4 separate regions of the Homo sapiens genome follow, and regions 2, 3 and 4 are each linked to region 1. The links come from fine-mapping of genetic effects on gene expression. A gene starts in region 1. Each other region holds a variant in brackets. All regions are shown on one strand. Distances are between the middles of the regions. Region 1 holds the start of ISCU (iron-sulfur cluster assembly enzyme). Region 2 overlaps SART3 (spliceosome associated factor 3, U4/U6 recycling protein). Region 3 has its middle 59 kb from the start of CMKLR1. Region 4 overlaps FICD (FIC domain protein adenylyltransferase).

What was found.
Region 2: its variant is fine-mapped to the expression of ISCU in skeletal muscle (GTEx, PIP 0.94).
Region 3: its variant is fine-mapped to the expression of ISCU in caudate (GTEx, PIP above 0.99).
Region 4: its variant is fine-mapped to the expression of ISCU in whole blood (INTERVAL, PIP above 0.99).

The regions. Positions count from the first base shown.
Region 1 is chr12:108,558,893-108,566,996 of GRCh38, reverse strand. ISCU (iron-sulfur cluster assembly enzyme) reads right to left here and starts at 4,401. Exons shown (of 5, transcript NM_213595.4): 1 at 4,261-4,401; 2 at 2,605-2,718; 3 at 1,566-1,676. The coding sequence starts at 4,374. It overlaps SART3 (spliceosome associated factor 3, U4/U6 recycling protein), which reads left to right and starts at 5,824. Exons shown (of 19, transcript NM_014706.4): 1 at 5,824-6,154. The coding sequence starts at 5,843. RefSeq lists enhancers at 481-530, 3,912-3,981, 4,512-4,591, 4,662-4,721, 5,576-5,675 and 1 more and silencers at 3,172-3,221, 4,182-4,301.
Region 2 is chr12:108,531,986-108,540,089 of GRCh38, reverse strand. It overlaps SART3 (spliceosome associated factor 3, U4/U6 recycling protein), which reads left to right. Exons shown (of 19, transcript NM_014706.4): 7 at 1,001-1,156; 8 at 1,887-2,025; 9 at 2,495-2,602; 10 at 3,305-3,382; 11 at 3,518-3,576; 12 at 4,622-4,731; 13 at 7,756-7,868. Among named protein-coding and RNA genes, the nearest start is that of FICD, 21 kb to the right of the region's middle. The variant T/C (reference allele first, on the strand shown) is at 3,757.
Region 3 is chr12:108,276,583-108,284,686 of GRCh38, reverse strand. It overlaps the pseudogene LOC196469. Among named protein-coding and RNA genes, the nearest start is that of CMKLR1, 59 kb to the left of the region's middle. The variant A/G (reference allele first, on the strand shown) is at 3,418.
Region 4 is chr12:108,518,772-108,526,875 of GRCh38, reverse strand. FICD (FIC domain protein adenylyltransferase) reads right to left here. Exons shown (of 3, transcript NM_007076.3): 3 at 5,666-8,104. The coding sequence ends at 7,401. SART3 (spliceosome associated factor 3, U4/U6 recycling protein) reads left to right here. Exons shown (of 19, transcript NM_014706.4): 16 at 323-777; 17 at 1,267-1,419; 18 at 2,370-2,560; 19 at 3,242-4,662. The coding sequence ends at 3,419. Among named protein-coding and RNA genes, the nearest start is that of FICD, 7.5 kb to the right of the region's middle. RefSeq lists an enhancer at 1,081-2,280. The variant T/C (reference allele first, on the strand shown) is at 4,758.

The DNA.
Region 1 (8,104 bases):
ATACACAGCTGCACTGCCTGGCTTGGGTAAGCAAAGACAGCCCAGACACTTCTCTAAGTCAGGAGTGGAACCTGTGAGAAGTCTCTTAGGGATCTGCTTGTGGCCTGTAACAGGAATCTCTTCCTTAAAAGGTAGTGATTTCCTATGCTGGTTTTGTGAATATCAGCTTCTCCGATGTCCTCATACCAAATGTTAGCCTAAATCCTTTTGACTAGAAGTGCCGAATGGCATCAGAGAGGTTGGGAAGATTTCAGGTAAGTAGCACAGTGGCAGTGGCACAGCCGAGTCAGGCCGAATGCTCTCTTTGGTGTCCCCTTTGCCTATAGGAGCATCTCCTCCAGATCAACTAAAGAGGATGCCTGGGGTCTGGTTGACAGCCCTGGGGGATAATGTGAGGCAGGCAGATCCTTGCCCATGTAGAACAGTGCCCCACTGCCTTACAGAAAACCAGATTTCCCAACAGCCAGACTCTTTGACTATGTCTATCATTCAGTTTCCCAATTCTGCTAACCCTTCTTGGTTGATTCAGGTTCTGCTCCTGAAACTCAGATGGGAGATCTCAAGGTTAAAGAAATGTCCTCTCTCCCATTTTCTGATCACAATTCACAGTCCCCTAAGGGCCAGGTTCTGGGAGCAAAAGTGCCTTGTCTCATTTCTCCCTTCACCTGAGGACAGTTCCTGACAAATCACTTCAGAGCTACCTCCTGCCACAGCAGGTTAGGTCTGAGCTTCCTGGCCCACAGGGGCTTGCCAGCCAGAAGGCCGTGAGCCACAGGAAGCAGGTGGCACGTGGCCTGGCAAACTGCTCTGCTGTGGAGCTGGCCAGCTTCCAAGCATGCTCCTCTGTGACTCAGCTCCCTGAACCTGGTCCCTTGGGGCAGCAAAGATGAGTGCCTTGCTGGTTGGCTTTTCTGAGAGGTTTTGACAGCAACTGGATTTTAGAAAGTCCAGCTCTTCACTGTGTTTGGGACCTTTGACCTCTGCAGCTACCAGGGAAAGACACTTGGGAGACAAAGGGATGAAAAAGAAGTTCTAGCTCTTTATTATCTCTGCCTTTAGAGGGCTTGCGATCAGCCACCTGGATCACTGTTCTGATTTCGTTGTTCACTTTGCCCCCACCCTTGCTGTCTTTTTGATTATTTAATCCCTCTTTTAACACAGGCTAGTTTATTTCACCAATTCTTGAAAGCCACCTAGAACCCTTCCTGAAACATGAGAGGAAATAAACAAGAAAATAACTACCTTATAACAACTCTCTGACTTGAGAAATTATAAGAGCACTGGTAACCTTAGAGAAAGCCAAAGATTTCTTTTAAATTCTATTTTGTTAGAGGGACAGGTGAGGATCTTTTTTATATGTAATTAACACCCAAACAAACAAAAAAATAAAAATGATCAACAAGAAAAAAACCCAAACAACACCTAGTAGAATGATCCATAATTCCCAATTTGAAGAAATGATAATATAATCAACATCTGCATAGGAGAAATTTTAAAAATTTAGAATATTAAAAAAAAGTCATGGTTACTTGTTTTTGACCCATTAGATTTGTGAGCCACCTTACCGTCTTTCCTTTCACCCATTCAGTGGCTAATGAGCTGGAGGCAATTGCGGAACCACAGCCAAATGTTTTAAACCTAGCATCCACAATCTTCCCCTTTTCATCCACTTGAATCTAGAAAAGAGACAAGAGTTAAGTGGTGAGTCCTGGGACCACCCTCTGGAACCTGGCACTCACGAAGGTTCACCAGGGCCTTCCCCAAGGGCTTTGGGCTTGCTTTCCACACTAAGTGATGGCATTAATTACTGACTTTGCCTTGTTTCAAAGAGCTCAGTGATGAAAAGTGAAATGCAGGGACAACTATCCAGGCCCAACTGACAAAGATCAGCTGAAAAATATGTCCCTCCACTCCAATATTCTTTTGTTTTGTGACTCTGGCCTGCATTTTGGCTATGAACTTCTATTTGTGGAAGTCTGCTCACAGCTGCTGGGGCAATCTGGCCTCTTTAAACACTGACAGAGTCCACAATAAAGGTCTCTGGTTAATACTTTTTTCTTGGGCAGCAGATTACACTTAGTGGTTTCCTCCTGTTTTGTTTCTGTATTCCAAGATAGGTATGAAGACCTCTGGCAAGCTGCCCACTCACCATGAAGCAGCAGATTGGTGCTACAACTACAGTTTACCCAAAGCACTAGACACTATTTTCATGTTTCCCCCAATCTGGGGACAGGTTTAATTTACTGTGTTTCTTGTTTCATTGGGGACTGCTAGCTCACTGGGATTTTCCTTTGATCAGTAAAATTCACAAAACTCTTTAGTTGGCTGAAGTCAGAATTTAAACTGATACAGTGAGTACAAAAATGAGATTACTTTTCTATTTTGGAAAAAGTTGGCATAGTACACTAGCCTAGCAGGAGAGCTACGATTGAGGCCCTGCTCCAGTCATATCTAACATGGACTCATCCCATCTCACAGGAATGGAGACCAAGTGAAATGCTTGGAGATCTCACAGGAATAAAGATGGAGACCAAGTGAAATGCGCAAGTGCTTTGTAAACTTAAAGGGATTATTGTTATCACTATTAAAAAAGACTAGCCATACCTGTAATTTCATTACGTCACCACATGCTGGAGCCCCCACCAGTCCAGTTCCAACATTTTTAGATGTCTTGTCAAGGGACCCCACGTTTCTAGGATTTTCATAATGATCAACAACCTAAAATGAGAGGGTTAAGATAAATCATGTTCACTCTCTATTGGTACTGGTCTCTGGTTTGATGGTAAGCTCCTCGGTCAGCATCTTGAACCTGGCAGGCAATCACTAAATACCAAATTTCACCTGAGTAGAAAGGTCTACACTCATGTCAATGAGAACCATTTGTGACCCCCAATTCCTTTTGTGTCTCCTCTACAATACTTCACAGATTTGAGATACCTAGAAGAAAAAAAAATCAGTGAAATCATGTCTTAGTTCCATAGGATTTTTACAAAAATACTTGACTTTCACCCACCTACATCACCAGACTTGGGCTCAAACAGCAGTTTTGTTATTTTCAAATAAAATCCATCCTCAAAGGATGATTACTATTTAAAAATTCTAAAAATAACCATGGCCCAGGGAGGGAAAGCTTTCTTAGAAGCCTTAAGGTGACTGTTACACAGGGAACAATGCTATGGAATGTGTACGTTTATGTGTCTTTTAAAATAAAAACAGTGCCATTACCGTATTTCACAGCCTGTCATCACCCTGGTGCAGCAGCGCACCCTGGCTGCTGAAAGGCTGCTAGTCCAAGTTTCTTCAGGGTGTACCCTCAACAAAACACACCCCCGGGAGGGGGAGGAGTGAAGAAGCCCTTGGAGAAAGGGCAGAAGCCAGATCACAATAAACATCCATTCGAACTGGCACACAGAAGGCCTTAATAACCTTGAGGTTTGGTTACTGGTTAGTAGTAAGCACGCCGATCTTCCAGTCCCCTTTTCCCCCCATCTGACTAAGGATTTTGACTCCAAGTAAAAGGGACCTCAGGATAGTATCTAATGTAGGGGCCTTTTGTGCCACGTTGATTTATGGCATTCTTTAGTTGTTTCTCGAGTGGGAGTCTCACGTCTGGGGGACTTTGTGCCACCAGACAGCAAGGGGCTGCAGACTATGAATCTATCCCTCCTTCCCCGCCAAAAAACCCCCCAAACAAAACAAAAACATTACGCATGTTGGTTACAAGCCTGACTCCCCTATGCACTCCTAAAGCAGTAACAGAAACGGTCTCCTCGTGCTGGGGCCTATGTGCCAGGAACCATGCCAGGACTCCACGCACAGTATCCTTTGTAAGGGACAGCTGAGAGCCCCCCATTTACACCTGGGGAAACAGGTTCAGAGAGGCGCAGTGACTAGCCCAAGGTCATCTGGCCAGGGCAGCGGAGTGGCTGAAGCCGGAGCCCGCTCCGGGGGTGTGTCTGTCCCTGGACTCAGAAAGACAAGTCCCAACAGGACCCTGCCTCCTGGGCTGTTGGCGAATTTAAAATTGGGACGCACGAAGTCGCGGCCAGCGGCGGGGCCCCCTGGAAGTCGCCGCCCGATGAGCGGTAACTGTTGTTTATCAGTTGCAGTGAGCCTCACTGCGCAGCAAGGGAAAGCGAGTCAGGGCAAAGACGTGGGAGGGGACAGCTCCCAGTCCTAGCTGCGCAGAACCCCGCGGCCGCCCCTCCAGCCCAGGCCTCCGCTGAGTCGGCATTCCGCGCGTCCCTCTTTTGTCCCTACCTTCTTGTGATAGAGTCGGGCCGGGGCCGACAGCTCCCGGGCGGGCAGGCGGGGGCTCCGCAGCAGCAGAGCCGATGCCGCCCGCCTCAGACGGAAAGCCCCAGCCGCCGCCATCTTGCCGGCTTGCGCCTGCGCCAGTCCAGAGCGACGCCGAGGGGCGGGGCGCGTCTGCGAGTCGGCTCCGAGCTGGGAGCGCGCCTCTCTGACGTCACCGAAGCTTTGCGCCTGCGCTTTACCGCTCCGTGCACGCGTCCGCCTTCTGGCCCCGCCTTGACCACGCCTCTCGGGGGCGGGCGGGGTCGGGAGCGGGAAGGTCTGAAGTCGCTGGAGGGCTTGTCCTGGGTGCTGGATTCTGGTTGAGACAGGACCTCAGGGCTTCTGCAGTGTGGGGCTCAAGTTCGCTTTCACAAATCCCGCTGCGGGAATGCGGCGCAGAGGAGCACCGAGTCCACTTTTCCTAACCCTATTTTGCAGCTAAGGAAGCCGAGATTCAGGGCAGTTTAGTAAGTCCGTCCAAGGTCGCTAAGGACTTATGTTCAATTAGAATTCGAACTTGGGTAATCCTGGGTTAGAATCCTGGTTCGGTTCCTTCCTGGCTGTGTGTCCCTAGACGAATGGTACCGGCTCGCTGAGTCTGAATCTTCCCTTTTGTATTAATTCGAGGACAATTGCTTCATCATGAAGCCAGCATCTGTGTCGAGTACCTACTATGTGTCAAGGCGCTCTACTAGACCCGGGGATCCAACGGAAAGCAAAACAGACATAATTCCTGCCCATTAAGCCTGCTAATGAGGGAGCAAGGTAGAGATAGAGACACACACCAATACTTTCCTACCTCAAAAATGGGAAGCTTAAGAAGGAAACGAATACCATGTCCTGATTGAAAAAAAATGAATATGTCTATTTTTCTCTCTAAAACAACAGCAAACTCAATTTATATGTCAGTGCCTAGCAATTAAGAATTTCTAAAGAAATGCGTATTAATGTAATTTACTGTTGGTTTGCAGTATGTGATCTTATAAAACCGGAAAACTCACGTGTATTTAACGTCTACTAGGTACCAGACGTTTACATAAAGGGGAGGAATCTGGGAAATGGATTTTTCTCTTGAATGGTGAAATCGATCCTTCCCCGAGGACCTGCAGTTTTCTTTGCGTTTGAGGCGCAGTTGCTGGGGAGAGTAAACCCAAGCGCCAGGTCACACTAGGCGATAAGTAAGGCATTTAATCGAAGAATCACTTTGACCTTCTCAAGATGGCGCCAAATTCTTCACTACAGACATCACTCTCGCTCCATGACTTCCTCTATGGCTTCCACTTCCTGCCCAAAGACCCAACTTCTGTCCGAAGTTGTGACGGAACGCATGCCATTATAATGAGTTTTTATATCTGGTGGGAGCTTTTACAGGGTATAAAATAATGTGAATTTAGTGTATGTGGAGATTTTCCTGTTATCTAAGTTCCCAGTTTCTCTTTCAATGGCAAGAAAACGGGTTTTTGATAAGGCGCGCGCCGCGGGCAGCTTCTGCCTCAGCGGGTCTTCGGCGGCCGCGGGAAGACCCGAGAGTCATTAGAAGCGCAAGATGGCGACTGCGGCCGAAACCTCGGCTTCAGAACCCGAGGCTGAGTCCAAGGCTGGGCCCAAGGCTGACGGAGAGGAGGATGAGGTTAAGGCGGCTAGGACAAGGAGGAAGGTGTTATCGCGGGCTGTGGCCGCTGCGACATACAAGACCATGGGGCCAGCGTGGGATCAGCAGGAGGAAGGCGTGAGCGAGAGCGATGGGGATGAGTACGCCATGGCTTCCTCCGCGGAGAGCTCCCCCGGGGAGTACGAGTGGGAATATGACGAAGAGGAGGAGAAAAACCAGCTGGAGATTGAGAGACTGGAGGAGCAGGTGGGCCCGGGGGTGGGCAGCGGGCATCTTCCAGTCTTTCAGGTCCTCGGGTCCCCATGTCCTGGCCCGCCTCCCTAGTCCTCGGCGGCGATAAAGCCGCCAAGGCTGCAAACCCGCTTTTCGTGACAGTAGCTCCTGTCGGATTTGAGTGCTTACTGCCTGCCCATTGCCTTGCAAACGTTATCTCATTGAATCCTCGCCACGACCCTGTGAAGGAAGCCCTGTTATCTATCCCCATTTTACTGGAGGAAACTGAGGCTCGTGGAGGAAAGTTTCTTGCTCAAGATAACACTTCCTGCAAGTCAGGCCTTGTACTTTGATCCCATTCCAGAACTCCCACTCTTAACCACACGTCCAACAGTAGAAATAAACTCATTCGCAAGAGAGTGTTATTTTGTTATGTAGGAATGACGGCGATGATGAAACTTGTGGTAAGAAAAATATTGACCGCGATGGTGATAATAGAAATGGAAAGGTTTCTGGTTCTGGAGGTTAAGGCCTCAGTTCTAGCTGTTCAACTCTTGTATGTGCTTGTAAGAATTTCTTAATTTCTCTCACCCTCTCGACTTCCTTATCTGCAGATTGGGAGCAACAATTTCTGCATAATATAATTGTTGTAACAGTAACTATAGCTCAGTGCCTAGCATCTAGTCATAACATGGTCTCTCACTTGTAACCTTATGAGGTGGTGATATCTACTGTATAATCCAGGATCTCAGCAGGAAATAGGTGGCACATTTAAATTAGGATGATCTGAGAGAAACTCAATAAAGGTGTGGGTAGGGAAATCGGGAGTGAAGGTTTAGTATCCCATAGCTGGTAACTCCAGAACCTGGTGTCCATCTTTGGGCCGGAAGGGGTGAAGGGTGTGATCTGAATTGTGTGGAGAGGGCACCTGAGACCTGCTGATAACTTTGTTCAAGGGAAGCAGCCCCAGTTTCCTGTCAAGGATTGAGGTGGGGGAAGAAATACCCTGACCTCTCTTTCTTCCTCCCACCAAACTTCTGCTGGTGCCTCCTGCTGGGCAGACCCATCTGGAAGCTGGAGAGCCAGGAAACCTGTGCATGAGGTCTATACTCGGGGACACAGGGCAGGGAGGAGAGGGTAGGGTGTTTTTTGGAGGGGGCAAACAGAAGAGATGGAGCACATTCTCTCTTTTTTTTTTTTTTTTTTTTTTTGAGACAGAGTCTCGCCCTGTCACCCAGACTGGAGTGCAATGGCACCATCTCGTGTCACTGCAACCTCTGCCGCCCTGGTTCAAGCGATTCTCCTGCCTCAGCCTCCCCAGTAGCTGGGATCCAGGCACGCACCATTGCGCCCGGCTGATTTCTGTATTTTTAGTAGAGACGGGGTTTCACCATGTTGGTCAGGCTGCTCTTGAATTCCTGACCTCAGGTGATCCACCCACCTTGGCCTCCCGTAGTGCTGAGATTACAGGTGTGAGCCGCTACGCCCGGCCCGCATTCTCTTTTTACAGATGAAGAAACAGAGGTTCAGAACAAATGATGAAATGATTTCCTTTAAGTTATTCATAGTGGGATTTACACTTAAAATGTGGACTAGATGCCACACTGGATGTGAAATCACTCAGTGAATGTGAAGTTGCTAATCTAGTTTACTCATTAAACCTTACTGAGTGTCAGTTTCCTTATAATACTCTCTCTGGCACTGATATTTTTGTTATGAGATAGTGATGTCATCCATTGGTATAGCTTGTCCCACCCATTACATCTGATTGTCAGAGGAACCTGTTGGGGTTGGCAGGTGGTTAGCATTTCTACTTTTTTTTTTTTTTTTTTTTTTCTTTTTTGAGACGGAGTCTTGCTCTGTGGCCCAGGCTGGAGTGCAGTGGCACGATCTCGGCTCACTGCAAGCTCCGCCTCCCGGGTTCATGCCATTCTCCTGCCTCAGCCCCCCGAGTAGCTGGGACTACAGGCGCCCGCCACCAAG
Region 2 (8,104 bases), 27 kb after region 1:
TGAAGTTTTTTGGGCTTCTTGACTCTTTTTTTCTATCTTTCTTTGCCAACAATAGGATTGTGAAGGTCAGATTCTTAATATACGTCAAGCCAGCAAAAGGTTAATGTTTACTTAGCTTGCCACCCTCATTTAGATTTTGTCCTTAGTCCTTAGTATTTCTTGTTTCTTTGCCAGTTTGTTGATGACTTTTAAGAAGATATTATATTTAATTTAGCAGTTTTAGTTGTTTTGAATGGTACAGTGTGTCTGGGTAACTAATTCTTCCTCGTTACTGGAAATGGAGGCCCTGAAACATCCCCTTTCTACATATGGAGTCTGTGTGTTCTCTTACTCTCCTGCACTGCTTCATCCTTTCTTTTTCATGTGTAAATGATTTGCATGTACCTGTGCTTCCCAAAACTTCGATCATTCAATTATGTCATGGCCATCAGCAAAATGTGCCTGAAGAGAAAACATGTCGAATAAGATTTTTTTCTAAAAAGAATTTGATTGTATGTCTTTGGATCATTAAACATTCAGCACAGCTGCCTTCATCTTCTGCATTTATCTACATTCTTCCAGGAACTGATATTTGGAATAAGAAACCTGAAATAGCATCAGGCACCAAAATTTTCCAGTTTGGTTGTATTAACTCTACTCAGTAGCCCAAGAACATGACTTCTGGTTTGGAAGGGTGGTTGACAGTGGTCACTGGCAAAGGTGTTGCTCTTTCACTCAGTTCCTGATTGATGGGCTACTTAATTCCCTGTGGTCTAGGAATGGATTTAGAAAAGAGTTTATGGAGCCTTTGTAGCGACTGCCATGAACTGGCACTTTGGACCAGATGAGAAGACTCTTGTTTTGCTCAAGAAGTTGTAGAGGCCATAGTGGAGTGGTTCTGAGAGTGAGGATTTGGCGATTCATAGTTACTGTAGCCAGTTTTGCCAAAATTTATTTTATTTGCAGATGTGTTGTGCTTCCTGCCAGTAACTAAATTCAATACAATTTTCCTGTACTCCAGTTGCAGGCAGAGGCACCAAGGCTGGCAGAATATCAAGCATATATCGATTTTGAGATGAAAATTGGCGATCCTGCTCGCATTCAGTTGATCTTTGAGCGCGCCCTGGTCGAGAACTGCCTTGTCCCAGACTTATGGATCCGTTACAGTCAGTACCTAGTAAGATCACTGTTCTAATTTCATTTTATTTTTGCCAATTTAGAATCTACTTAAAATCAGTAAGAGTGCCAGGAGTTTGTTGCATACGGCCCTACTCTTGCTTTTCCTCCATCTGCTTTTTCTCCTCTTTGCCAACTCGTTTAGAAAGTTTTAGTGTTTCAAGTTATTTAAAAATGGTCACTAACTGTAAGTAAAATGAGCATATTGTCTGTGTTGAGGACTTATAACAACTTGATATTTTTCTTTTAACTTTTTATTATGGCAAAAATGTAAACATATAAAAGTAGACAGATCAGTAAAATGAAACTTCTGTACCCCTCACCCAGCTTCAACAATTAGTAACATTTATAGCTTTAGTTTACTTTGATCTGTAGTCTCACCTACTTGTCCCTTCTGTGTTACTTTGAAGCAAATCCAGAAATGATATTTCGTTGGTAAATATTTCAGTATGTGTATATAAAATATTTCAGTGTGTCTGTATAAAAGGATCCAAATGAGGTCTATCCAGTAGGGTTGGCTGACGTCTTTTAAGGCTGTTTTAACCTGTAAGTTGCTCCTCTCCTTCTCCTCCACTCCCCTTAGTGATTTTTTTGTTGTTGTTGAGGAAACCAGGTCACAAGAGATGTTTATAAGGACATTTCTTTCATCACTTGGTCGTGCTGGCAATGTCTTGTTGATGGTGAATGCTTAATAAAGTGTAATTTCCTAACTCTGGAATTCTTTATCATAGGATCGACAACTGAAAGTAAAGGATTTGGTTTTATCTGTACATAACCGCGCTATTAGAAACTGCCCCTGGACAGTTGCCTTATGGAGTCGGTACCTCTTGGCCATGGAGAGACATGGAGTTGATCATCAAGTAATTTCTGGTGCGGATGTTTTTGTGGGAGAACTTCTAAGCTATTTGTCCCAAGTGAAAAACAGAGAGCGGTGACAAAGTCATTACATCAGTGTTCCCTGGGGTTTTCTTTGGGTTATGGAGTGTAGTGACAAAAAGGGCTCTGAGTGAGAGATGAACTGGTTATATTTGTGGCTTCTTAGAGCTTTTTAACATGCTAATATTCATTGTATTTTCTAAGAAGTTGTAGTGTTTTCTCCAAACTTCCTTGATCTGGAACTTTTCTTGCAGGGCGTCTTGTGGAAGAAGTTTTTTCTAGAACACAGTCTGTAGAGTGCTGTAGCAACTTCTGTCTTCAACATTCCTGTCTAGCTCATTTCATTCTGTTGCATCTATTAGTCTTTAAAGTCATGTAGTGTTTTATAGTCAGTAGAATGTAGTGACTTTCTATTAGTTTCCATTTGAATTGGTAACAAATCCTGACTTTTCTCCAACTCCAGTAACCTTCGAGAAAGCTTTGAATGCCGGCTTCATCCAGGCCACTGATTATGTGGAGATTTGGCAGGCATACCTTGATTACCTGAGGAGAAGGGTTGATTTCAAACAAGGTATTTAAGCACATGTTTTTCACTTTAGAGCTGAACATGTTCTTAATACAACTTTTGGCGAGATGTCCCAGTTCCCCAGATACATTGTGATTGGGCAAATGATGTAGACTAGGTATTGGTGACTTTTTCCCCCAGAAATCTTAGCAATTTCTGTCTTTAACAAGTCATGATGTGGATTGTAAAGCAAGAGAGTAATCGTTTATACTGGCTCCTGCCAGCCTTTTTAGTCTTAGCTCTCATTTCTCCTTTCAGGTCTTTTTATTTATCCTAAATACTTCTTGAAATAAGTCTGCTGTGTTTTAGAAAAATCTTTGTACCTCTGTGGGATCCTTTGCCCCTTCATGTCCCCCCGAAAACAACCAGAAAACCCCTAACTTGTACTTGCACACTCATGTCAGCTGTCACCTCATACAGGTAGCCTTTAGCCATTCTCTTGTTTGCCTGTGTCACCCCAGCTGGGGGAGACTCCCCCCCACAGCACCCTGTGTTTGCCTTTTTCACCACGCTGTCCATGCTCTATTCTGTTCAAATTTCTTTCTCCCCAACTATGTGATGAGGGCAGGAATTGGCAATTTTATTTCTGTGTCCCTTGCATGATGCCAGGTACATAGTGGGTCTCCAGGCAGTTTCAGCATAGGATAAAAAATAAAACAAAGCCAGGCTATGTGGTTTCCTAAAGCCTTTTTTTGCACTTTCCGTTAGACTCCAGTAAAGAGCTGGAGGAGTTGAGGGCCGCCTTTACTCGTGCCTTGGAGTATCTGAAGCAGGAGGTGGAAGAGCGTAAGTATGCCCCAGCCTGTGGTTTTGCCCAGTTGTATTTCCTTGTCTGTACTATTTCCTGGTTGATGTACCTTTTCAGCCAGCGACTATCTGTCTCCAAGTTCCTTTCTAATTTTACTAATTCTGTTTTTGAAGGTTTCAATGAGAGTGGTGATCCAAGCTGCGTGATTATGCAGAACTGGGCTAGGATTGAGGTAAATGTTTTTGACACATCTAGCACTTTCATCCATCATTGTTTAATAGCATCCTATTAAACTTTAATTAAAATTGAGTCAGAATCCCAGATAATGGCCTAAGCTCTATAAGGATTTATGTTATTACCTAGGTAATGGTCTAGGCTCCACAAGGATTCATGTTATTTACCTAGCTTGACA[T/C]ATATTTGTAAATATGTTGGTGAAAATATTAGCTCCCAGCTAGAAGTTGTGCAGTAAATGTTTAGATGCTAGGTATTCACTCGTTTACTTCTGTCTCTGCCTCTTTGCTTCATTTGTGAGAGCACAGTGAGCGTGTACTGTTTGTCAGCACTGTACTAGGTGCTGTGGGAATAAGACAGATAAAATTCCTTTGCTAGTAAGGCTTCTATCTAATGTAGAAGACAGATGATTTGACAAGTAATTAGAGGATATGATGACTTGAATGTCATTACTGGGTCAGGGACACCAAGGTCAGTAAGACACGGAACCTCCCTTGATCAGCAGGTAGGATTGTAACAATTCTAATCATGTTTTCTCCTCGGAGGGAGCGTCAGATAGAAGAAACTAACATTTGTCAGGTAGTTTTTATATGGGATGCTTATCTTTTAACCATTTTAAAGATGAGAAAACTGAGAATTACAGGTTAAGTAATTTGCCCAAGTCACAGTTTGTAAGTATTAGTAGCAGAGTGTGCATTTAATACTAGATCAGTCTTTTTTTTTTTTTTAACATTGTCTCTCAAACACTTGTAGTTAAGCTTGATAAAAATAAAAAACGTGACTATCTAGTACTGTCGAGTAAGTACCGTGCGCTCCCTCTCTCGGTTCTCAGGAAACATAGGTAGATTAGCTTGTGGCTGCAGAAAGGCTCAAGTGTTTGGGCTGGGTCGTTTACCACTGGAGGGAGGCCTGGGGAATGCCCAGGGACATCTGTAACACTAATAGTTGTGGGGTGCTTTTTATGTGTGTCTGTTGGAAGTGTGTTGTATGATGGGTGTCGACGTCATAAGGTTCAGGTCTCCTAACAGCCTGCTGATGCACTTTAGGCTCGACTGTGCAATAACATGCAGAAAGCTCGGGAACTCTGGGATAGCATCATGACCAGAGGAAATGCCAAGTACGCCAACATGTGGCTAGAGTATTACAACCTGGAAAGGTAACTGATCTCGGGGTGGGGAGGGAGGCAGTGCTTGTCAGCTGTGCACCTGTCTTCACTCCTGGCTGACTCCTACCAGCTTGGACTAGCTCCTTAGAACTGGGCTGTTTTCTTTCATTCTGTCTCTTTCAGTAGTGGGTACATTTTTAATGGGCAGGGCTAGAGAACCAGACATGATATTTTGTGCCTGGAACTCTTATAGCCATGCATTTCTTTTAATTTGTTTTTGTCTTGATTTTTGGGCATGATATTTTATTTGACCTTTTGGAGCTATTTGTTTTTTATATTTGCTTTTATAGAAAAGTAGAAAATACTAAAAAGCTAAGAGAAAAAAAACTCAAATTACTGACCCAGTCATAACCATGACCCATTCTTTGAGACTTTTCTATGTTTAAATTTTTTTGTAATGAAAATGCAATTATAGCATGCATGTGTTACAAGCCTTTAAAACTATTTGAACGAAATAAGATAGGCCTAACAATATTTATAACATGGGGAAAACATAAAGAATGTGACCAACTTTTCAGTCTGTCTTGAACGTTGTTCATTGCATAACATTGCTACATTGCTGGGTTTTCTTTTTTGAAGATTTTTTCCCTATTTAAAAAACACTGTGTGCCCAAATTAGAATATTTACAAAAATATGTGATAGAAAGCGACAGTTTCTTTTCTTTTTTCGGGGGAGGTGGGGAGTCTCACTCTGTTGCCCAGGCTGAAGTGCAGTGGTGCAGTCTCAGCTGCAACCTTGCCTCCTGGGTTCGAGCAATTCTTCTGCCTCAGCCTCTTGAGTAGCTGGGATTACAGGCGTGCACCACCACACCTGGCTAATTTTTGGATTTTTTTTTTTTTTTAGAAGAGGCACAGTTTCACCATGTAGGTCATGCTGACCTCAAGTGATCCTCCTACCTCGGCCTCCCAAAGTGTAGGAATTACAGGCATGAGCCACCATATCCGGCTAAACGTGACAGTTTCTTACAATCCCACCCCAGAGATAACCACTGTTAAAGCTTGTTGAATATCCCCCTAGATCTGCAGTTCACAATTTTTTTGGTCTCAGGATCCATTTTCCACTCTTAAAATTGGAGGATCCCAAAAAACTTTTATGTATGTGAGTTATATCTATTGATATTTATAATTTATAAATTGAGAAATCTAAAAAACATTTTAATTTATTTAAATATAACAAATTATCTAACATTAATATCTTTTTTGAGCAGTGACTGTTTTCCAGACCCCAAAATAATATAGTGAGAAAAGTGGCAGTGTTTTCTATTTTTGCAAATATATTTATTTGCACATTATTCTGACCTAGGAGAAGACAGCTAAATTCTCATGTCTGTTACTGATTCTGTCTGTTGTGATCTGTTGTTTTCATTGAAGAGGTTAGGAAAGAAAGGTATTTTAGAAGCATTTTCAGATAATTGTGGGTATTCTTCTTTCATACATATTATAGCAAAACTTCAGTGTTGCATGTGGAATCTGAAACCATATTGACAGAGTCTGTTACAGTAATACCCATTTGTCTATTTTATCTTTTACTTGATGCCACAATTCTACGACATTATTTGGAAAAATCCCAATTCACTAAATCATGCAGCTCTTCCAATGTTGACATATTTCATCCTATAGTATTAAAAAATCGTATTTGTTCATATCTGTATTGATCTTAGTTGAAAAGTATTTTAAGTAGGAAGCTGTCAGACTTGTGGTGGCAGATACAAGTTTTCCAAAATTCTAATTTTCACTTGAAAGCTTGAATTCTATCACATGCAACAAATAATGTCAGTGGTTTTCCCCAGAGTGGCAGCCTCACTTTGTTAATTTTCAAAAATGTCTGCCAAATACCCAGGTCTGAGTAACTGACCGTGGTTTGTCACTCAAGTTTCCTTTCAAGTAAAAATGGTGTCCTTGAAAAAAATGACTTGATTAGCTTGCAACTCAAACAGTAATATGCTTTTTTTTTTTTTTTTGGCAATAACCATTGTACTTCAGTATGCAGAAGGGCTTTAAGTGTACTTAGTATTTCATCACACAGTGCATTAAAAAGATTTCTACTGCCTTGATTTGTGCTAAGGGCCACCATTACTTGTGCACTGTCTTGAAGATGTCAACACAGTGAAAAAGTCCAGTAATGTCTTGGTATTATTATAAAAGGAGTTTTGACTTTGCAGGGCCCCTGAGAGGCTCTGGGAGATCCTCAGGGGTACGTGGATCTTACTTTGAGAACCAGTGCTCTGAATTTATTCTGAGCATCATAATATGTATATATAATTATGTATATTTAAAATGTTTTAAAAACAAATATGAATACACTGTTGCATAACAGTTATGATTAGCAGAATTGTGTAGCTGTTGTGATTAGCAGTGTACAAAAAGGATCTGTTTGCGACCAGCCTTGCCAACCTGGTGAAAACCTGTCTCTATTAGAAATACAAAAATTAGCTGGGTGTAGTGGTGGGCACCTGTAATCCCAGCTACTCAGGAGGCTGAAGCAGGAGAATTGCCTGAACCTGGGAGACAGAGGTTGGAGTGAGCCGAGATCGTGCTATTGCACTCCCACCTGGGTGACAAGAGCGAGACTCCCTTTCAAAAAAAAAAAAAAGATCTGACTCTGGGTATGAAATTTGACACTACCCTGGATTCATAACTCTCCTGTCAGTAGGACGCCATAGTAAAATTTCCCTGGGGACTGTATCAGGTTACAGAGAGCTGTTGGACTCCCCCGCCATGTGCCGCACATGTGAATGCTGTAAAGGCAGAATGCTGGTTGCAGATCACAATATCAGGTACACTTTCCAGTAGCCCCTACATGGCTGAGGGAGAGAGTGCTTCAGGGAAATACTTCGTAGGTGACTGTAGAGACTCTGGAAGGAGAAAGCATCATGGATAGATCTGAAAGCTAAGGTCTTCTCAGAAGCTAGAGTTACTGAAGAGTGAGTTTCTACCTGGGAGAAGACGGCCTCTCCCTTCGAGTGCCTTCCACTTTGTGTCCTGGTGGCAGCAACTTTTTGTTTTCTGCCTTAGAGCTCATGGTGACACCCAGCACTGCCGGAAGGCTCTGCACCGGGCCGTCCAGTGCACCAGTGACTACCCAGAGCACGTCTGCGAAGTGTTACTCACCATGGAGAGGACAGAAGGTGGGACCCCCAGCTCTCTTCTGGCTTGGAGCCTAACCCATTTGCTGTTTGGTCTCAAGTAGGAGCATCTGGTTACAGTCTGGGGACAGACTGTGTTTATGCTGCCACCTTAGGTGGTGCCCTATGATTAGACTGTCACAAGTGTCCTGAAAATGAGTCCTCCTGCAGCTCTTCTCAAATTCTGCAGCTACAAGGAGGACTCTGTGATGTCACTGTAGCACAGGGTTCTAATTCTC
Region 3 (8,104 bases), 280 kb after region 1:
CAGAAATGAGTTCCCACCTCCACTGGTACCCAGGACAGGTAGTGGCAGGACAGGACCAGGTCTGACGGTTTGTCCTTGATTCAAGAGAGCATTTTAGAGGGCAGTGGCTCCTGCAGCATCCATCCAAAGAGGTAGAGTCTCAGGAAGGACTAAGCCCTCCTGGGGGCCTCCCCAGCCTCACCACCTGACTCAAAGGGACTTTGATGTTTATGACACCGGGTCAGGTAGGCTCAGGAATCAGACTGCGAGGGCTCGAATCCAAGCTCTGCTATTTACGTCAGCTAAGGGCAGGGTTAGAGTTAGGCTCTGTGACCTTGGGCAAGCTATTCAATGCCTCCGAAGCCTCAGTTTTCTCCTCTGTATGACAAAGGGCATGATAAAGGTTTGCAGCTGTGAGGATTCAGTGAGATTGCTGCACTTTAGCGTTTAGCAGGTGCCAGGCTCTTTCATCTGAATATGCATCGGCTTTCTTGCTGGCCTCCCCACTTCTGTCTTTGCTCCCTCAACCCACACTGTAGGAAGCAGCCAGAGTGAGCTTTTATCACAGAATACAGTAATCCAGAGCCCTTACTATGGCATCAAAACCCCTATGTGATCGGCTACTGCCTCCTTCTCTAAGTTCATCTCATGCTGCTTTCCAGCTAGGTGATCCTTTCTGCCTCTCAAGCAAAATGAAACAAACAGATCAACAGCAACAATACAGCCAAGATTGGTCCCACCTCAGGCCCTTGCACTTGCTATTCCTGCTGTTTCTGGGCCCACTTGCCTCTTCCCTTTGCATGACTGATTCGTCCGCCTCCTTCTGGTCTCAGTCCAAATGCCATCTCCTCAGACAGGCCATGCTAAGGTAGCCTCCATCCCTACTCGCTGCCTATCAGATCCCTATTTTGTATTAGTGTTTTCTTTATACTAGTTACTGCCATCTGAAATCATATTATTATGTGTGTATTTAGTGGCCTTAAGTCTGGCCCCTACTTGGATCCAGCAAGATGGCAGGGACTTTGGCCACCTTATTGTATCCCTAGCAGTGCTTAGCCCAGAAAAGCTGCTCATAACTTCTGGTTGAATGAATGAAGACATTATCATAAGCTGACATTATTTTTGCCATCATCATCATCGAGTTTCATGACAATCACTTTTATAATACACCGTTTCCAAAGTATTTTCACATTTTTTTCCTATCTTAATGAAACCTGGGGAGGGTGGGATTTTTCCTCATTTCACCAACATGGAAACTGAGGTCGCAGGTCACTTAGTTTAGAAGTGGAGGAGACACAGTTCTTTACTTGTGCCATTAAGAGTAATCACAGGCTGGGCGCGGTGGCTCAGGCCTGCAATCCCCATACTTCGGGAGGCTGAGACGGGCAGATCGCTTGAGGCCAGGAGTTTGAGGGCAGCCTTGTCAACATGGAGAAACTCCGTCTCTATTAAAAATACAAAAAAATTTAGCTGAGCATGGTGGCACACGCCTGTAATCCCAGCTACTCGGGAGGCTGAGACACAAGAGTCGCTTGAACTTGGGAGGCGTAGGTCGTAGTGAGCCAAGATCACACTAGTGCACTCCAGCCTGGGCAGCAGAGTGAGACCCTGTCTCAGAAAAAAAAAAAAAAGAGTAATCACAGACAAAGGAGGTTTCTATCAAGTGCTTCCACCTCCCTTGGCCTTTTCTTTTCCCTGTTGTCTGATTTATTACAGCCAGAAAATAAAGGAACCAGATGCCTCCCTCCTCCTCATATTGTTTTGTAGTTCTTTTCCGGACCAGGTTTCTGTTAAGGGTTTGGCTGGTACCACTGTGACCACAGACTTCCTGTGTTTATCCCTTCACTTAGAAATCATAGTCAACTGGGCATTAAAGTCTGTGCTGGACACTGGATGACGCTAAGACACCAACACACAGCCAAATACCTGGGGGTCCCGTGGGGCCCAGAAGCCTAACACAGAAAGAGGCAGATCCAGGGTATCTTTTCCCTGGTTTCCACTATGCAGATGTTTTCCACCTTCAGAGCAACATCAAGATGAGTGAACAAGTCTCCAGTTTGCCTCCAGATGTTGGGACTGCGGTTGTGGAGCAAATTCCATACAGGGAGGTGGAATGGAGGCTCTCAGCCTTGCCTGCTGGCAGATGATAGCCTGGTGGATGGCAGGCAGTTTACAATACCTAGCCCACTGCCTGGGCACCAGTGCCTTACTGGGAAGGATTGACTTGTGATGGGATTTTAGGGATGGTGACAGGCAGCCAGAGGGAACTCCACATTGGTCAACCTATTTCATCCTTATCAGAAGCTTAAATGGTAAAACCACCTTGTCTTCAGAAACGAAGAAATGCTGGGTCAGCTGAAATTCGAGCCCTCACTGTCAGAGAAGCTAAGCAGAAACATCTTAGAGGTAGGGACAGGGGACAAATTTCAGACAAAGATCATGGTCAGGGCAAGCCTGCCAAGAAGGCTGCACATGAAGCCTCAGATCAGAAACCTGATGGAGTGGATGTATCCAGGCACATTCTACTACAACTTTGAAAACAGACCCATCCTCTCAGGTTGGAACACCACCTGGCTGTGCTACAAAATGAAAACAAAGAAGGACCCCTCAAAGCCCCCTTTGGACGCAAGGATCTTTGGAGGCCAGGTCTATTCCAAGCCTGAACACCACCCAGAGATGAGATTCGTAGATTGGTTCTGCAACTCGAGGCTGCATCGTGACCAGGACTACCTGGTCATCTGGTACATCTCCTGGAGTCCCTGCTCAGAGTATGCAGGGAACGTGGCAGAGTTCCTGGCCAAGGATGGCAAGGTCACCCTGACCATCTTCGTTGCCCACCTCTACTACTTCTGGGAAGCAGATTACCAAGAGGAGCTTCACAGATGGTGTCAGAAAAAACAGTCCACATGCCAGCATGAAGATCATGAACTATGATGAATTTCAACACTGTTGGGACAAATTTGTGTACAACCAAAGAATGCTATTTGATCCTTGGAAGCAACTGAATACAAATTATGCATTACTGCACAGCATGCTGGGGGAGATTCTCAGACACATTCACTTACAATTTTACCAATGATCCTTCAGTCTCTGGGCAGCACCAGACCTACCTGTGCTGCAAGGTGGAGTGCCAAAACAATGATGCCTGGGTCCCTCTGGACCAGCAACAAGGGCATCCTACCCAGCCAGGCTTTGAATAATCTCAGTTGCTATTAAGATTTCCATGCAGAGCAGTGCTTCCTGTACCTGATTTCCTTTTGGAAGCTGGACCGGGCTCAGTGCTACAGGGTCACCTGGTTCATCTCCTGGAGTCCCTGCTTCAGCTGTGCCCAGCAAGTGGCTACATTTCATTGGGAGAACAGATGTGTGAGCCTGCACATCTTCGCTGCATGCATCTATAATTATCTCCCAGGATATGAGGGGCTGTGCATGCTGCAG[A/G]GGGCTGGGACCCAAATCTCCATCATGACCTCCGGAAGTTTAGGCACTGCTGGGTCACCTTTGTGGACCACCAGGGATGTCCCTTCCAGCCCTGGGATGGACTAGATGAGCACAGTCAAGCCCTAAGTGGGAGGCTGCAGGCCATTCTCCAGAATCAGGAAAACCATAGGATGGACCTCAGACTCTAAAGAAGGCAGAAAACCTGTGTTGAGCAGCAGAATGGAAATCTTTCAAGAAATGCAAACAGGCCATTCACCACTATCTCTGGCTGAGCAGTGGACACTAGCAAAGCAATGAGCTCCTGACAAGTAGTTTTTTTTTTTTTTTTTTTTTTGAGACAGAGTCTCGCACTATTGTCTGGGCTGGAGTGCAGTGGCACAATCTTGGCTCACTGCAACCTCCGCCTCCCAGGTTCAAGTGACTCTCCTGCCTCAGCCTCCTGAGTAGCTGGGATTACAGGCGCCCGCCACCAAGCCTGGCTAATTTTTTTTTGTATTTTTAGTAGAGATGGGGTTTCACTATGTTGGCCAGGCCGGTCTCGAACACTTGACCTCATGATCCACCCACCTTGGCCTCCCAAAGTGCTGGGATTACAAGTGTGAGCCACTGTGCCTGGCTGACAAGTAGATTTTTAAAAAAATCAGAGTGAATTACTTTTAATCAAAAATTTATACCATGTTTCAAGGATACAGTAGTTAAGATTATGGTCAATACACACAGAAAGTTTTCAAATTTACTAATCCAGTGACCATTTGATTTTATATGTAGAAGAATAAAATGAAATACTAAATAAAAAAAAAACTTCTAAAATTTGGTGAAGACAAGGCTTGGCAACGCCAAAGAAACTTTTTTCTCCTTGAAACAGGGTCTGGCTCTATAGCCCAGGCTGGAGTGCAGTGGTGTGATCATGGCTCACTGCAGCCTCGAGCTCCTGGGCTCAAGTGCTGTCCCCACCTCAACCTCCTAAGTAGCTGGGACTACAGGTGTGCACCACCATGGCCAGCTAACCACAGAAACTTTCATCTGTTTATTCTTTCTTTAGGCACCATTAATACCTAAGGCAGGTAGAATGGGTCCCAGAAAGACACAATTGGTAGCGGCTGATTGTTGGCTTCGGTCATTGCCCATAGGTCAGCTGGTACAGGATGCCTTAAGGTGAAAAGGAGTGAGGGTGCATGAAGAATAATGAGCACAGGGAAGAGAGAAGCAGAGCAAAGTACCAGATAAAATACCGGCCAAGCACAGATGAATGTCTTCAAGGAGCTGTTATGTTTCTCTGCACAATGTAAATACCCTTGCTATTTCAGGATGGCGGCTGGCCTGCTCAGTAACACACATGTTCCAAATAAAGATTTTGCATGAAAGTAAAAAAAAAAAAAAAGAAAGAAACGAAGAAGTGAAGTTCAGTGGGAACAAGTAAGCTTCCCAGAACCACACAGAATCTACCCATTGATTTGTATTGAGGATTTACTATATGGCAGGCAATGTGCTAGGCTCTGGGGATACAGCTGCAGATGCCATCCTGACCTTCATGAATCTTGCAATGTATTGGCATGCAGCAGAGCTGAGATTTGAACCCACAGCTGTATAACTGTGTGGTTTATACTCTTTTACTACATATCCTTCCTGAGTTAAATAAGTTAGATACAGAGGAATTAGGACAGAGCAAAGGGAAAGACTTCATGTTATGAAGCCTTGAACTTGTCAGGAGTTAGAGAAGACTCACATTTTGGCTAGGGATTGCTGAGTTGAGATTGATTCTGGGTTTTATGACGCACCTGTCAATAACTGCTCTCCCATCCCTGAATTCTCAAAACAGAAAAGTGACCTAATCCAATAGCTTTTCCTTCCTTTGAAAAAGCAGTAAAAGATGATGCTGCTTAACCCAAGTGAATGGCATGCTAAAGGTGAAATTGCAGGAACTGAGGCAGGTTAAAGGATAAAGAAACAGGGAATAGGTGGAGGCTCCCTAGCTTCTTCCATTCTCCCTATAGGGACGATTGGTTTTGCAGGTTATTAGAATCTGAAATGTCCCCACTTTCTGATTCCTGAATTCCTTGGGCATTCTATCCTTTTATAAACCTCATTTCGGTCTGCTGGCCACAGAATCCTCACAGATATAGATAGATGTATGGAAACAGCTAGTTCAATCTTAACATGTCAGAGATAAAAAGCCCTATAATCAGTATTGTCAAGCCCATCCCAGGATCTCTGATGAAAAATTAGTCTCACAATACATTAGCAGTGAGACATGGCAAAAACTTGGACATGTCCATGCCCGGCTCCGGTTTCCCACTCCATGATGTGATCCTCCATTTCATTCAACTGCTCAGTCATCTTCTCATATTTTGGTTCAGACACATCAATCCCTGTAAACTTGAGAAGCACAGAAACAGAAAATCAGTATATCTTTAAAGGCTAGGAATATATATTACACGAATAAAAGTCTTGATACCCTATGCTATTTAACATTTATCTTAGGAATCACGGTTTAAAATAAACCAAGCAAAGTTTGAAAGAAATAAGATTATATCAGTTAGAATGCATTGGACTGCAAGTAACAGAGACCTCATTCAAAACGGTAGAATCTATAGGAAAAGTGCATTCATTTGCATACTAAGAATGCCTGGAGGTTGAGAACTCAGCAACTGAATATTGGCATCAAGGATCCAGAGTGTTTCCTTCTGTTTGCTCTGTCATCTTCAGAGGATTGGCTTTGTCCCCAAAATGACATATCTCCTGGTCAAAAGATGGCACTCACAGTATCAGATATTGCAGCTGCCCATGGCATCAAGTAGAAGAGCCATTGATTATCTCAGAGTGTTGCAAGGGAATCTGCCCCCGCCCCCAACCCCCTAGCAGAACTCCCCTCACACCTTTTTGGCCAGAACTGGGTCACATGGCTACTGCTAAACCAATCACTGATAAGGAAAGAAGATTGGTTTAGACCAATCAGGATCCACCCAGGGGACACAGGACAAAGAAGTGGACATTCAGACAAGATCAGGGTTTCATTTACATGGAAGAAGGGGAATGGGTTAGGGATAGGCACTGAGTGGTGTCTCCTACAGAAGAGACAGGAGACACTTTAAAAAATAATGACCAACCTGTTCAGGCCGGAGATTCACATTTTTGTTAGGAGAAAACATAAATTATTGGATCTGAGCAAAATTATGGTGTTTGGTGGGGTGGGCTCTCCTAAAAAGTAAGAACTTATTTCTCAGAAAATCAGAATGCCTTATCCCTTGAGAGTAATAATTTTTCTCTTTTTTTAATATTAGCTCATCATATTTGGCAAAAAATTTAGTATATATAAACCAGGAAAAAGAAAAAGAAAGTAAGAGAGAAAGAAAGAAAGGAGGGAGGGAGGGAGGAAGGAAGGAAGAGAAAGAGAGAAAGAGAAAGAAAGAAAGGGTAAGAAAGAAAGACAGAAAGGAAAAAGTGAAAGAAAGAAAAGAAAAGGAAAGAAAGAAAGAGAGGAGGAAGGGAGGGAGGGAGGAAGAAAGGAAAATAAAGAGAAAGAAAGAAAGGGTAAGAAAGAAAGAAAGAGAAAGTGAAAGAAAGGAAGATTGATTAAAGGAAAACTACCTGTGAACCCAGGAATAAGTACTATTATCATTTTAGTTTATAATCTAAAGTCTAGTTTATATGTCTGTATCTTTTAATAACTATCTAGTAAAAAAGATACTCTGTTCTATAACATTTTTATTTATGAACAGACACTTCTCAAAAGAAGACATTTATGCCCAAAAAACACATGAAAAAATGCTCATCATCACTGGCCATCAGAGAAATGCAAATCAAAACCACAATGAGCTACCATCTCACACCAGTTAGAATGGTGATCGTTAAAAAGTCAGGAAACAACAGGTGCTGGAGAGGATGTGGAGAAATAGGAACACTTTTACACTGTTGGTGGGACTGTAAACTAGTTCAACCATTGTGGAAGTTGGTGTTGCGATTCCTCAGGGATCTAGAACTAGAAATACCAGTTGACCCAGCCATCCCATTACTGGGCATATACCCAAAGGATTATAAATCATGCTGCTATAAAGACACATGCACGTGTATGTTTATTGTGGCACTATTCACAATAGCAAAGACTTGGAACCAACCCAAATGTCCAACAATGATAGACTGGATTAAGAAAATGTGGCACATATACACCATGGAATACTATGCAGCCATAAAAAATGATGAGTTCATGTCCTTTGTAGGGACATGGATGAAGCTGGAAACCATCATTCTCAGCAAACTGTCGCAAGGACAAAAAACCAAACACCGCATGTTCTCACTCATAGGTGGGAACTGAACAATGAGAACACATGGACACAGGAAGGGGAACATCACACCCTGGGGACTGTTGTGGGGTGGGGGGAGGGGGGAGGGATAGCATTAGGAGATATACCTAATGCTAAATGACGAGTTAATGGGTGCAGCACACCAGCATGGCACATGTATACATATGTAACAAACCTGCACGTTGTGCACATGTACCCTAAAACTTAAAGTATAATAATAATAAAATTAAAAAAAAATCAGTTCACTAAATGTTCCTCTATGCAGGTTTGGTTATTCAAGTGATTGCCTAGTAGACATAGAAGTTTTGCAATTTATCTGACCAATCCCCTACTGATGGACGCTTAGGTTAGTTCCTTTTTATTATTGTTTCTGTAATTTCTTGATG
Region 4 (8,104 bases), 40 kb after region 1:
AGGAGAGGGGCCCTGGAATTTGCCTTCTGAACTTTGAGATCCACTGACCTTTTGTATAATTAAGAGTGGACAATGGGGATTTATGTTATTACTTCCACTTGATTGAGCCCACTTACCCGAGTGTAATTGGGGCACAGAAAGTCGTGGGACAGGTCAGGCGGATCACAAAAGACTTCTCGGGGTGGTGCTTGCCCCTCCGAGTCTGGTGAGGGAGTAAGTGTCACATGCAGCTGTCACAGCACTTTCACTTCACACCTCTGTTCAAGCTCCCTGAAGAGAAGTAACAGTTAACCATGGCTACTTTTCTTTTGAAAACCTGTAGAGCAGCCTTCCAAACGCAGAAGGGTCGAGAACAGCATCCCTGCAGCTGGAGAAACACAAAATGTAGAAGTAGCAGCAGGGCCCGCTGGGAAATGTGCTGCCGTAGATGTGGAGCCCCCTTCGAAGCAGAAGGAGAAGGCAGCCTCCCTGAAGAGGGACATGCCCAAGGTGCTGCACGACAGCAGCAAGGACAGCATCACCGTCTTTGTCAGCAACCTGCCCTACAGCATGCAGGAGCCGGACACGAAGCTCAGGCCACTCTTCGAGGCCTGTGGGGAGGTGGTCCAGATCCGACCCATCTTCAGCAACCGTGGGGATTTCCGAGGTTACTGCTACGTGGAGTTTAAAGAAGAGAAATCAGCCCTTCAGGCACTGGAGATGGACCGGAAAAGTGTAGAAGGGAGGCCAATGTTTGTTTCCCCCTGTGTGGATAAGAGCAAAAACCCCGATTTTAAGGTAGGTTTATGGAAAAAAAGAATGCCTTTCATCTGTGGTTGCTTTAGACAGGCACTTTCTTCCTGCAGCAGTGATATTTAGGATAGACATGGAAGTTTTACGCTCTGTTTGGATCTAAACTTCCTTGTGAGCCAAGGTCCATCCTGAGCCGGTTGACTGAGGTCTGACTCATGGCATGGCTCCTTCTTGCTGGGTGCTTAGCAATGACAAGGGACTGTGCTGAATGCTTTATGTGTGTCAGCTCATTGACTCCTCATGAGACTCTGTGAATGGTTACTTTTATTCTTGCCGTTTTACAGAGGAAGACATGGAGGCCTGGAGAGGTTAAGTGACTCGCTCCGGTGGCCCCATTAACAAGTTTCAGAGCATGGCTTGGCTCTAGTCTGCCTGGCTGGGCTGCTCATGGGGACAAGGCTGGTGTCAGAGGAGTCAGGTGAGCTGGGTCATGCCTCGAATCATGGTTTTTCTCTGTCTTCCTTCTTCCTATAGGTGTTCAGGTACAGCACTTCCCTAGAGAAACACAAGCTGTTCATCTCAGGCCTGCCTTTCTCCTGTACTAAAGAGGAACTAGAAGAAATCTGTAAGGCTCATGGCACCGTGAAGGACCTCAGGCTGGTCACCAACCGGGCTGGCAAACCAAAGGTCAGAGTCAGAGCAGATTGTGCCTTGTCTTCAAGGCTTGGGCAAACTTCGTTTCTGTATCGGTTCAAAGATGATTTAACCTCTAGAATGGGTTCCTAGTTTGTCTGCTGAGAAACAAAAGTTAATTTCACAGAAAGATCTGCACTTAGCTCTACTTATATTTGGAGTCAGATTAACCTGTTTGTAGTTAATTGTACTAAAAAGAATAAGACACTTGGAAATAGAGGATCATGAATTCACCACACTATGGCCCCTGGCTGTGGGGCTTGGGGGAAGCCCTGTGACCAGCAGCATACGGGCTTTGGGGTGGGCGCCCTCCTGCAGCCTTCTCCCTCTGTCCCAGGCCTCTCTTTCTCTGGGGCCTCCAACCAGGCCCCTTGAGTCCCTCCATTGCAGTGCCTCTTCTCCTGTCTTTCCTTCTTGCCCCCTCAGTCTCCTGCTAAGTCCTTTTGTGCCCCATTTTGAGTAGTAAGTGGTTTCATTACTGTCTACCCACTGCCCACTCTCCCTCCCCTTTATCCAGGTTAATGGAGAGAAAAAGAGGATGAAATGAGGGAGCGGGTGAAGGCACAGAAACACGAGGGCTCACCTGGGCACCTGGGCTGCTGGCCCTGTGTCCCATCCACCTCTTGGTTTATTTGCTGGATTTATACTGGTCCATCTGTCTTTTTCCTTCTTTCTTTCTACTTCTGCAGCACGTACAAGGTGTGCTGAACTTGGAAGGGTTATCTGAAGTTACAGTGCATAGCAGCACTCGGGAAGGAGAGTAGGGTGGGGAAATAAGCCTGTAGACAGAGGATGCGGTGGTGGGGAAGGTAACCTGTTGGTGGGTCGTTTGCTGTGGCCTGGTCTGCTGGTCTCCGGGAGGAAGCCCAGTGCCTGCCCTGCAGGAGGAGGTTGCGTCCCTAGTCTGCGGGATCTGACTTGGTTCTGGATCTTGCCTCTTCCAGGGCCTGGCCTACGTGGAGTATGAAAATGAATCCCAGGCGTCGCAGGCTGTGATGAAGATGGACGGCATGACTATCAAAGAGAACATCATCAAAGTGGCAATCAGCAACCCTCCTCAGAGGAAAGTTCCAGAGAAGCCGGAGACCAGGAAGGCACCAGGTGGCCCCATGCTTTTGCCGCAGACATACGGAGCGTAAGTGCTTGCATGGTAGACTAGTGCAAACTTCGTCCTGGCTGGCACCAGTTCATGGATCACGGGGGGATTAACCCGGGATGAATTAGCTTCCTGTTAGGACAGAAAAGCCAAGATGTGCTGTTCCTTGTGGTAATCACTGTGGTTCCACTGGAGCAAGGCGTCCAGAGCAGGATGCAAGCCTAGGCAGTGACCTCTGCCTGGTACTGGCCAATTTACACTTGTCATTTATTTCAGACAGAAATAAGGCAGTGATTATTTTAAAGTCCCCTTTGCCAGTTGGATCTGTGTGTTTACAAAGAAATCTCATACCCATGTGTGTGCCAGTCTACGGCCCTAGCTATGATCCACATAAGCTGTGCTGTTCGCTGGTTTGGGATGAGGAGGAGATAGCAGAATTGCCAGGTGACTGGTGAGGTCTGAGAGGTGATAGTCACACTGATCCCCTCTGAGTGTGACTGGTGCTCAGGGTTGATCTTTGCCAAAACTGAACAAGGCCAAGTCTGTTGAAGCAGTTTTTACTTCATAAACAGAATTAAGGAGGCAGGGATTATCTTATCCTTTTTTTTTTTCACCTTTTAACTTCTGGTTATATTAAAACTGTCTTGGCTTATTTTCACAAATAAATGAGGGGCCACGAATTGTTGCTTCAAAAGGTCCATTCAGTGTTTGCTCTTTTAGGAGGGGGAAGGGAAGGACGCAGCTGTCTCTACTGCCTCGTGCCCTGCAGCGCCCAAGTGCTGCAGCTCCTCAGGCTGAGAACGGCCCTGCCGCGGCTCCTGCAGTTGCCGCCCCAGCAGCCACCGAGGCACCCAAGATGTCCAATGCCGATTTTGCCAAGCTGTTTCTGAGAAAGTGAACGGGACGCTGGGAGACAGGAAATGCCTTACTTCACTCTGGCCCGGCGGACCTCCCACCACCCAGCAGTGCACTGGGGATGGACAGGCCTGGTGTGCTGCGTGCTCGCAACCACAGATGGCTCCTCGGCTTTAGACAGAAAGGGGAAGGGGTTCTAAGTCAAGAGCCTTTCAGTGCTCCCTCATATTGAGGGCAGTGGCAGAAAAGTGACCACTCTGCAGGCTGGGCCCAGGATGTGGTGTCCTGAGATAGTTTTGTATCTTAAAGACTGAGGCACAGAAGCGAAACGAGAACACACTGTTTTTGAGACACAGTTGTCCAAATGTTTCTGGCCAGCTCCGGCCCCTTTTTGTATGACACTTCTCTTCCACCCTGCACAGCACATGTGCCCGTCATTCTTTTAATTTTAAAAGATGAAATGGCAGATGCTAGTAATTCACAGAATGGCCTCTTGTGGGGGTGGGTCTGAGGGAAGTCAGCTATAAAACATTTGCTGGAGTTTTGTTCAATGGGGCTGTGCATTTTTATATTATGTGTTTGTAAATGACATGTCAGCCATTGTTTCATGTTTCCTAAAAGCAGAATATTTGCAACATTTGTTTTGTATAGGAATTATTTGTGCCACCTGCTGTGGACTGTTTTCTTTGCCTAGTGACTAGTGACCTGTGTTGTCTAAACATGAGTTTCAGCCCTTTGGTTTTGTTTAATACCATGTCAAATGCAAACTTCAATTCTCCCCATTTAGCTTTATTAAACTGACGTTCTCTTCAAAACTTCTTGCTGAATGGTACTCAGATGTGCATTCACATACAGATGTGTTTTGAAGTGGGTGTACCTTGCTTTACCTAATAGATGTGTAAATAGAACTTTTGTAAGTCAAATCCCATTGTCACTTTGATTTAAATTATTCCAGCTGTGATGTGTCTTCATTTTATAGCAGTTTGACACTGGAGCTTTTGAGCTTTTTTACCTCACATCTTTTATCAAATAATATTTACTGCTTTGAAAACAGCAACAGCATTGGCCAGTTCAGTAGGGGAAGCTTGCTTTATTAAGACACTCTGGAGAAAGACGTCAGGGAATCCTTGTATATGTCGTGGGAATCAACTCCTCATTTATCTGTTGCGTAAGTTTAAGTTTTTGTGCATCAGTCGGGTTTTCTATATTTTTTTAACTTAACATTTTTTAATATAACCGATTAAAAAGTAGACAGAACAGTAAAATAAACTCCTGTGTGCCTACCATTCAGCTTCCAGCATTCCTCAACTCCCAGCCCCTCTTCCTTCATGTCTGTTTCCCCTCCACCCTCTGTTATATTGAGGCACGTTCCAGATGTCAT[T/C]GTGCTCATCCAGTAATGTTGCGGCAGGTGTCTCAGGAGGACTGAAAGGCCTTCACTCCTAGAAACATTAGTGGTAATCCCTTCATGTCATCAACTGTCCACTCAAATTTCCACCTTCCTACAAATATCAGCTCTCCTCCCTGTAAATTATTGGTTGGTAAGCCTCTTAAGTCTTAAAAGGTAGGTTCCCCTCCATCTCTTTTTTATACAAAACCAACTTTTTACTAGGCTTTACTTCTGAATTAAATTCAAGCGGCGGCTATTGACAGCAGCAAGAACCTTTGCTGTCCCACGCGTTCCTCCTGCAGTGTTCTCTGTGATGCTGCTTGGAAGGCTGATGGACTGTTCAGCTGGTGTGATGATTTGGGTAGCTCAGAGCCCTCATGGTTGGGGACCTGACACATGAAGAGCCCTGAATATCACTATGGGTGAGTGTGGCCTTACTTTTTGCTGCTTCACATTAACGGTTTGGCTTTGCCTGCAGCCAGTATTCTGACCTTAATGTCACACTTGCAGATGTCAGCCCAGGCTTGGTACAGGGGCAAACCTTTTCAGGCTTGAGCAGAACCCAGTTAGGTTCCGGGTGTTGACTGTTCTAGAAATGGATTTCCAGGACTACATGAGTGGGTTTGTGTGTTTTCCCCAGAAAATCCAGAACTGATGATAAATAGAAATGTGAAAAACTACTTCAGTTACTTGACTGTTTGTTAGTAAAAAAAAATCAGTAATTCATCCTTGCCCACCTAGGTAGGCGGTTTATCCAACTTCTGGGTCTCTTGCCCATGGAAATCACCATCTTGGATCTGTTGCTCTCCCAGAACAGTATTATGAATAGGGCTAAAGGTCAGAATACCCCCACTGCCCTTATGACAGATGGGAACATCTCCCAAATAAGACAGTCTCAAGCATTCATGTAATAAAATAACTTTATTAGAATCAGGAATTTGTTAAAATAATATCCTTCACATATAGCTAAAGTGCAAATTCTCTTGCTCTGTAGTAGAAGCAAGCACATCTGTCAGACCTCCGTGGTGTGCTTATAAAACCAAGACGAGAAGAGTTTTAAGAAGTACCTCTGGCAGCATAAGAGTACGAAAACACATTTTATAAAGGTTTGAACAATTATCATTTGGAGCCATTTCATATATCGTGTATGTCTTTTCACTTATTTTTCTTAACCTTTCAAAAACTACTCTGTGCTATTTATACAACTGAAGAACTGTATAAACTACTTTAGAGCAGTGGCCTCATTACTGTCAGGAACGGAATTACCAAATCAAAGAGACAACACTGCGTATTCGCCATCACTCACACACTGACAAAGTGCAGTAGTGTTAGACATCATGGGCTCTGTCACTGGGAAAGGGACCCAGTGACTTCCACCTCTCTGACTCTAAATAGCAGCAGTCATATTGGCACCTGTACCATATGATTCAAAGAGAAGATTCTACTTCCATTGGATGACAGCTTGGAAACCCGGCCATATTACATAGAGCACTACATCATTTCACAAGTTGCGAGAAAAATAAGGCCACTCCGAGGCAATCTCTTCTGCCTCCCAGGGGGATGGGACACGGGACAGTGCAAAGACCGTGGAAGATGGCAGTAAGTAGATGAAACTCCAGGACCAAAGGGATGCAGCCTGGCCATGGCTGAAGGTTTTTGCTCCATTCAGTAGAAACTGGTGCTCTAATTCATTATCAAAAATGCTTACTTGGTGTCCACATGGCACTTGTTTTCTCAGGTTAACATCTGCCTACAGAAAACTCAGGCAGAGGGGTGAGGGCAGATGCCTACTAGCATAACACCTGGTTTGCAGCACGATACAGGTGGAATGACAAGCCCAGAGAATTTCAGACGAAAACATCTGGCCTGAGTTGCTACAAATGAAGTGTGAGAGAAACGCGGATACACAAAGAAAACCAAACTGCCCGCCCACCATGTTTCCCCCTCCAACATACAGCTCTTTATGGCTACCCCCTATTCTTAATTAGAAAAATAGTCTCAATATGAAAAAAAAAAAAAAAAAAACAGCTGCTGGCACTAAAGTTTGCAAACTATGGCTCAAAAAGTCTTCCTGCAGGTAAGTAAGGAATGTCGGCATTCATTTTCTCTTCTATGAAGTTTGCTTGGAAGTTAGTCACCACTAATCTAAACCTTGAGAAAGTGAGCTTTCAACCATTTCTCTCAGCTGCGACTTGGGTCTGACTTCCCAGTTGCAGTCACAGAACCTCTCAGCCTGTTTCAGAGAAGCACTTGGAGGAGTTATGTCAGTGGCTCTGGGCCCCGTCCCACACCTCTTGGCCGCTCCTCCACCTTAGTGCAAATTCTGCTCCAGAACCTTTGTTCTGGTCACATGGTGGCACTGTTGCCCCTAAAGCACGGCCACCAGCAAGACACAGCAGACACCATACAATACTGACTAGCTTGCTCCAAAGAAGAAAATAAATAGCTTGGTTGAATTATAAGTTATTTTAGAGACAAGGCTTCATAACTTAGTTTTTTTTTTTTTTTAAAACTAAAACATTTGGAGGTAAAGAATGTTTCTCCTTTTGCTTTAGGAAGTGACTAGGTTTCTAGAAATGCTGTTTCTTTTTTTTTTTCCTACCTCAGGACAGCCTTTGTCACTGAGGATTTCTAGGGTTAGGGCTTCACAGGAAGCGTCTCCTTGAACCCAGAGTGGTTGGGTTGGGCTTCTGGCAGTGCCACCGAGTACTCAGTTGTGGCAAAAAGCAGGGTGTCCAGGGTGGTCTCAGTACACTTGGCGATGAAGCGAATGAAAGGCCTCACGTCGCCCTCGTTGGCAGCTTCCAACACGTGGTAGTAGTCGGACCGCTGCTCCTTGCGGATGGTGATGGGCGGGTAGCCCGCCTGCATGAGGATGAGGTTCATGAGCAGACGGGAGGTCCTCCCGTTGCCATCAATGAAAGGGTGGATGTAAACGAGTTTATAATGGGCTAAGGCTGCAAACTCCACTGGGTGCAGGTTCATGGCTTCCTCGGAGTTGAGCCACTGTACAAACTCCTGCATCTGCTTTTCCACATCCTGCGGATGGGGAGGGATGTGGTGTCCGACCAGGACCTGTGTTGTCCGAAACCTGCCGGCTTCCACGGGGTCCACGTAGCCCAGCACCCGCCTGTGGATCTCCAGCACGTCGCTGATGGTGACGGAGCCGATGCGCGAAACCAGAGTCGTGTTGATGTACTTCATGGCTGCATGCATGCCTATGACCTCGTTCTGCTCCTCCAGGCTCTTCCCGGGCACGGCGTAGCGGGTCTCCAGGATGTGCCTGATTTCCGAGAGGGTGAGGGTGTTGCCCTCGATGGCCACTGTGTGGTAGATGTGAT